Linked DNA regions of Homo sapiens: region 2 is linked to region 1. Evidence: fine-mapped expression QTL. A gene starts in region 1. The other region holds a variant in brackets. All regions are shown on one strand. Distances are from middle to middle.

Evidence for each region.
Region 2: its variant is fine-mapped to the expression of VIPR1 in whole blood (TOPMed, PIP above 0.99). The same link has a PIP of 0.9 or more in T cells.

What each region holds. Positions count from the first base shown.
Region 1 is chr3:42,501,005-42,503,910 of GRCh38, reverse strand. It overlaps VIPR1 (vasoactive intestinal peptide receptor 1), which reads right to left and starts at 1,268. Exons shown (of 13, transcript NM_004624.4): 1 at 1,098-1,268. The coding sequence starts at 1,175. RefSeq lists silencers at 1,010-1,509, 1,570-1,669 and an enhancer at 2,197-2,770.
Region 2 is chr3:42,528,155-42,531,060 of GRCh38, reverse strand. It overlaps VIPR1 (vasoactive intestinal peptide receptor 1), which reads right to left. Exons shown (of 13, transcript NM_004624.4): 7 at 129-282. It overlaps VIPR1-AS1 (VIPR1 antisense RNA 1), which reads left to right. Exons shown (of 3, transcript NR_046654.1): 3 at 103-165. Among named protein-coding and RNA genes, the nearest start is that of VIPR1-AS1, 3.0 kb to the left of the region's middle. The variant C/G (reference allele first, on the strand shown) is at 1,463.

The DNA.
Region 1 (2,906 bases):
GTGACCATGGGAGAGAATGAACTAGATAATCAAGATTCCTCACCCTCCCCCAGCCAACTTGGAGTGGGCATTTAAGGCCCTGCCTAAGCAGCAACTCTAGATTACTCAAAGTCTGGGGTAGGGAGAAAATCAACCTTTGTCTAGGTCTAACTGGTGGGAGACAGATGTGGCTCTTGTGTCTCTGGACCTCGCTTTGCCCATCTGTAAAATGGGCTTCAGTAGACTCAATGAGTGCTGAGGTCTCCCCTGTTCTAGAGTGAGATGATCCATGCATCTCCTGCCTCAATCAGCATCTGCCTCCCAGCCCAGGTAAGCCATCCACAGGAACACATATCACACCCACACATGGGGCACACGAGTACACATGTATCAAGGGCATACACATACCCACGTTGAGAGGAAGCAGAAGTGGGAGGAAGAGGGAGGCCACTGCTTGTTGGCATTGGCTCCCTGCTCAGCTCTCTCCATGTACAGGCCTGGCCCCTCCTGTTAACCACCACCCTTAGCCCCTCACTGCCCACCAGCTTCCACCTTGGGGTCTGGTACCTTTTTGCTTTGCTCAGTGGGAGGGCACACGGAGGGATGTGCCTGTCACTCACCTGATCCCAAGAACCCCTTCTCAAGTCCTGGGGCCCCCAGCACTGGTTCTGATGCTGACAGCCCACAGGCACCTCCAGACGGTCACAGCACACAAGAACGGCCCCTCACATCCTCCCTCTCACCTACGGTGTACCAAACCTTCCATCTCAATCGGCCGCAGTACCTGACTCTGCACCCACTGGCCGCCCCACCCCGCTGCGCACCCACAACCACGACAAGGAAGGCAAGTCTGGGGCCCACTCTTCCCCGCTGCCCCTCCACTGATGCTGTGCCTGCTCCGGGCTGCGCTGGGAGGGACTGGGCACGACCAATATCCCAGCCCTCGCGTCTAGGTTCGGTCTGGAGCGGTGGGAGGAGGCGAGTCGAGATGCTTGATGTCCCCTATTCCTCTTACACAGACACGCGCACAGACGGCCCGGCTCCCGCCATCCCCCACCTCCCCCGCCCTCCGCAACCCCCAGGCTGCCGGGACTCTGGGCGGCCGGGCGAACACTCACCGCCGGCCCAAGGGCCCAGGCGAGGGCGCCTGCCAGCACGCATAGCCAGCGGGCGGGCAGCGGACTTGGCGGGCGCATGGTCTGCCCTGAGCCCGCGGCGGGCGGCCCCGCGCGGGCAAAGAGCTGGCGGGCGGCGCACCAGGCGGGCGATGGCCGGGAGCCTGGCAGAGTGGCGCTGGCGCTGTGGCCCCAGAGCTAAGAGGCGCAGCTCAGGGCTGGGGGCGGGCCCCGGGGGCTCGTCTGACGGGCGGCGGATCTAGCCAATGGATGGGTGGAGGCGGGGCCGCCGCGCAGGTATGGGGCGGGGCTGGGGAGCCCCTGCCAGTGAGGAAGCTCTGCTCTCTCTTTGCCAATCCCACACCTTGGTCTTCCGTCGTGAGACATTTATAGGCCTTCGCCCCTCCGGGCTCATCACCCGGGAATCTCGAGACCCGAACACATTCCATCCTTCCATGCTTAGCTCACGACCTTCGCAAGCTCCCACCTCTGTATCCACCCTCAGCCCCATCCCAGGGCGCTCCTCATGTCTACCCTCGGAGCCACCTCCTCCAGGAGGCCTCCCCGCCAGCCTCCCCATTTCCCACCTGTGCGTCTCCGAGGGTTCGTGCGCGCAAATCCGATTACGAGACAGGAAGTGCCACTTATCTTCCCAGGCTGCGAGCTGGGGCCCAGCAAGTGTCCAGGCGCTGACAGAGATCGGGTTGTTTGATCAATTTTCAACAACCCCAATTCATCCTTCGCGCCGAAGAAGCCAGGCGAGAGGAAGCGAGGGCTCGAAAGAGGCCCGACTCTGGGTTCCTTGGTGTTCCCTGCTCCCGGGTGACCTGGTGGGGCGCGCTCAGCACCTGTTGGGTGCCCTGGCCCTTCAAGCCTCGGGAGACCTGCTCCAGGGAGGATGAGGTGTCCGCACCCTCGCGGGTCTCGTCCAGGGCACCTCCCCAGGGAGGCTGGGCTGAAGTGCCAGCGCCCTCGCGTGGGGAGCGAGGTCTGCTCCCAGCCCGCAGGCCGACTCCGCAGCTGACCTAAAACGATCCACAGACGTCGTCCTCCTCCTGCATTCCCTATTTTACAGCTGGGGATACTGGGGTCCAGAGAGGGGCCAGGACCCTGGCCGCCTGCCTTTGGTGCTGAGCTTCCAAGGGGCGGCTGCTCGGCCGCTGGGTGACACCGGGTCAGCCCCTTTTCTCGTTTATTCGTCCCTGGCATGGGGAGCGGGGTCACCAGCTCTGCGCCCTGGGAGCGCGTCTTCTTGTGGACCAAGCGCAGGTGGCTGCTAGCCCTCTTTCTACGGGCTCGAGCCTGCACAATCGAGGCTGGAGATGTGGTCGCGGCGGCAGGATAGAGTGGCTGGCGGAGCCGTGTGACAGAAGGAGAGGCGGAGTTCAGTGGAGAGGCGGAGAGGGCAGCGGGTCCCAGAGCCCTGAGCAGAATGTGCGGCTACCTGAAGGAGGTCCCGCGCTAGGCTTTGGCTGAACAGCAGGCGCGCAGGAGCTCCCTGAGGACCCACCAGGGCTTCCCTCCCTACAGAGAGGGAACGTTGGGATGCTGCCATGGGGTGGGCTTGAGGGGAGTGGGGGAAAGCCGGGAAGGGATGAGTGCCCTGGCCCTTTCTTCAGGGCGTACTTACACTTTCTTTCCACTCTCTCTTCTTTCTCTTCTTTCTTCCTCCCTTCCAGCATTCCATCCCCTGCACTTGCTCTTTTTCCCTTTCCTCCCTCTCCTCCTTCCCTTCATTAAAGGGAACCTCGCCACCATGGAGCCCCTCCCTCCTTTCTTCCATGCACATTTATTAATCTCTTTCTGTGTGCC
Region 2 (2,906 bases), 27 kb before region 1:
CCTTGCAGGCAGGACCTGCAGCTAAGCAAGACGTAGGACTGCAAGCTGGGTTGGCACCCTCCCCCTAGGGAGTTCTCCAGGCCTTGCCCCCTCTGTCCCCAGCCTGGAAGCCCTCCCTGGTACCATACCCCAGCCGATGAGTATGTACCCCCAGAAGTACTTCCGCTCAGAGAAGAAGGAGACGGCAAGCAGGGTGTACAGGTAGAGGCCCTCCACCAGCAGCCAGAAGAAGTTAGCCATGACACAATATTGGAAAAAGACCATGGCTGCCTTACAGCCCACCTGCAGGGGGAGGAGAAAAGACGGGGTTCACTGGGGCTGTCAAGGGTCCTTGACTGCCCACACTCGTGTCTGGGGGGACAAACACAGTTGCAGTGCAGCCAACTTAATCTCTTTGTTGTTTTGCATTATCCCCTTAAAAATGTACTCATTGGTTTTCCCATTTTCCCTAATTTTAGATCCTCTGATACTTCGGGATAAACTGGTGATTTTAATTATCCATCCATCAATTCATCTATTCACCTTCCCATCTATATATCTACCCATCTGCCCATTCAATCATCTACCCACCTATCCATGTATCCATTTATTTACCCACTCACCCACTAGACATTCACTATCAACTCACTCATTTATCCATTTTTTATCCATGTGTCCATCCATCATCTATCATCTTCCCATCTATCAATCCATCCACCCACACACCTATCTCTCCATTCTTCTACCAACCCACTCAGTCATCTACCCATCCATTCATCTCTGCACCCACCCATCAATCCACTTGTGCATCCACCCACATATCTACCTACCTGCCCCTCTGCCTATCATCTGTCCAATCTTCCTTACTTAACCCATTTATCCTGCTGCCTACTTAGCCATCCACCAACCTGCCCATCCACACTCCCACCCCACCCACTCATTCATCTAATGCCAATTTGTATTGAAGGTAGCTGGAAGGTATGAGGGAGAATTCTTGCTTGAGTTTCAAGAGTCTGCTCAATGTGGGGGAGTGGAGGGCTGTGGACTGTGGAGTGGGGCCCAGATGGAAGTGTGGAGGGAGACTGGGACTGAGAAGAGGGTGGAAGAGGGGGAAGTAGAAATGAAGAAGAAGAGAAGAGGGGAGGGGTGGCCATTCCTCCTGGGGTTCAGAGGACCGAGTGGAAGAATGGGTTTCTTAGGCAGACGAGGACCATGAAGGAGTTAGGGAGACCCATGAGTAGAGCAATCACAGGGCTCTGGGTGGCCCACTTGGCATGACTGGAAGGTATTCTGGGCCTTCTGTCCCCTCCCAGAAAGTCCCCCATTTCAGATCAAGCCTAGATGTCTGTCAGCCAGGGCTTAAAGCCACCCTCCACCAGGAAACTGTCTGGCTTCCACTTCCCCCTGTACCCAAAACATTGGTTCCCACCCTTCCTTCCTGTACCCTTGGTTTGCGACATCCTCAGAGAGAAGCCTCCCCCTG[C/G]CCCCACCACTCCCTTTGGTTGGAAAGTCCTTCCTCAGGTCTCGCTTCAGTCCCTCCAGTTACAGGAGTTCTTGCCTCCCCATCTTCCTCCCATTTGCTTTTGGAGAATAACTCTTTTTTTTTTTTTTTTTTTTGAGATGGAGTCTTGCTCTGTCACCTAGGCTGGAGTGCAATGGCATGATCTCGGCTCATTGCAACCTCTGCCTCCTTGGTTCAAACGATTATTCTGCCTCAGCCTTCTGAGTAGCTGGGATTACAGGTGCTGACCACCACACTCAGCTAATTTTTTTTATTTTTGTATTTTTAGTAGAGACTGGGTTTCACCATGTTGGTCAGGCTGGTCTTGAACTCCTGACCTCATGATCCGCCCAACTCAGCCTCCAGAAGTGCTGGGATTACAGGCGTGAGCCATAATCCGCGTCTGGCCATAACTCAGCTCTTTACCAGGACAGTTATCTGTGCTTCTTCCTAGTCTTAGAAAAGCTTCGCAGTAATGAATTGGGAAGCCAGTCTCCATAATTATCCGTAACATGTGCACAGGAGGCAGCAGGTTCCTCCACAGGTCCTGTGGCTCACAATGCTCATGTCTGACTTGGCCTCACAGCTCCTGGGACAGAACCTCTGAGAAGCTCTGGGAATGGCCAAAGTGGGTCCCCTAGGTTTTCTCTCCCCCTTGTTGAAATGCCTGAGATTCCAGTATGATCATTTCACTCTTTGGGGAGAAGGTACTGCTGACCCCTGATATAATGCACTGCCTCTGGGGTCATGCATGAAGCAATGAGTTACTGACCACAAGGAATGAGTGGGGGCTGGGGCTGATCTCAAGCTCTCTGTCAAAGCTTGGGGCACTCAGAGAGGGTCCCTAAGAATCCCTTGGAGATGGCCCCCTTAGTGACTGGCAATGAATTCCTTAGATGATCCCTTTACCTCTCTTCCCTAGGAAGGCCCAGAACCAGCCTGCTGTCAGGATCAGAACAAAAGAGGAGGACTGCATATGTATGGACCCACTCCAGATGGCACGGGGACGGGGGGAGTAGGAAAAGTGGCATGGTGAGCAGAGCCCTGGCTATGCAGGTGGCAGATGGCAGAGTTGGAAGGAATCTTGGAATTCCTTGCACAGATGGGGAAACTGAGGCTGTAAGTTCCCCAAGGCCACATAGGAAGTTAGCAACAGGTGGGACAGGTGCTCTGGGCTGTGGCCATGAAGTGTCCCATTTCCCATCTGCTTTTCTCACTGGCGGCGGCAGGTCTGTGAGCACCCAGATGGGTGAGCAACATCTCCTGTTGCCGGAGGGGAGTGTGATTTGAGTACTGCCAGGTGGGGTTGGGTGGGGGTTAGGCTATCCTTGGATTGAGGGGTGGGGTGGGAGGGAAGAGGGAGGAGGGAGAGGGAGAAGCAGGGGGAGAAGAGGAGATTACAGTGGTTAAAGATAACGGCGAGACT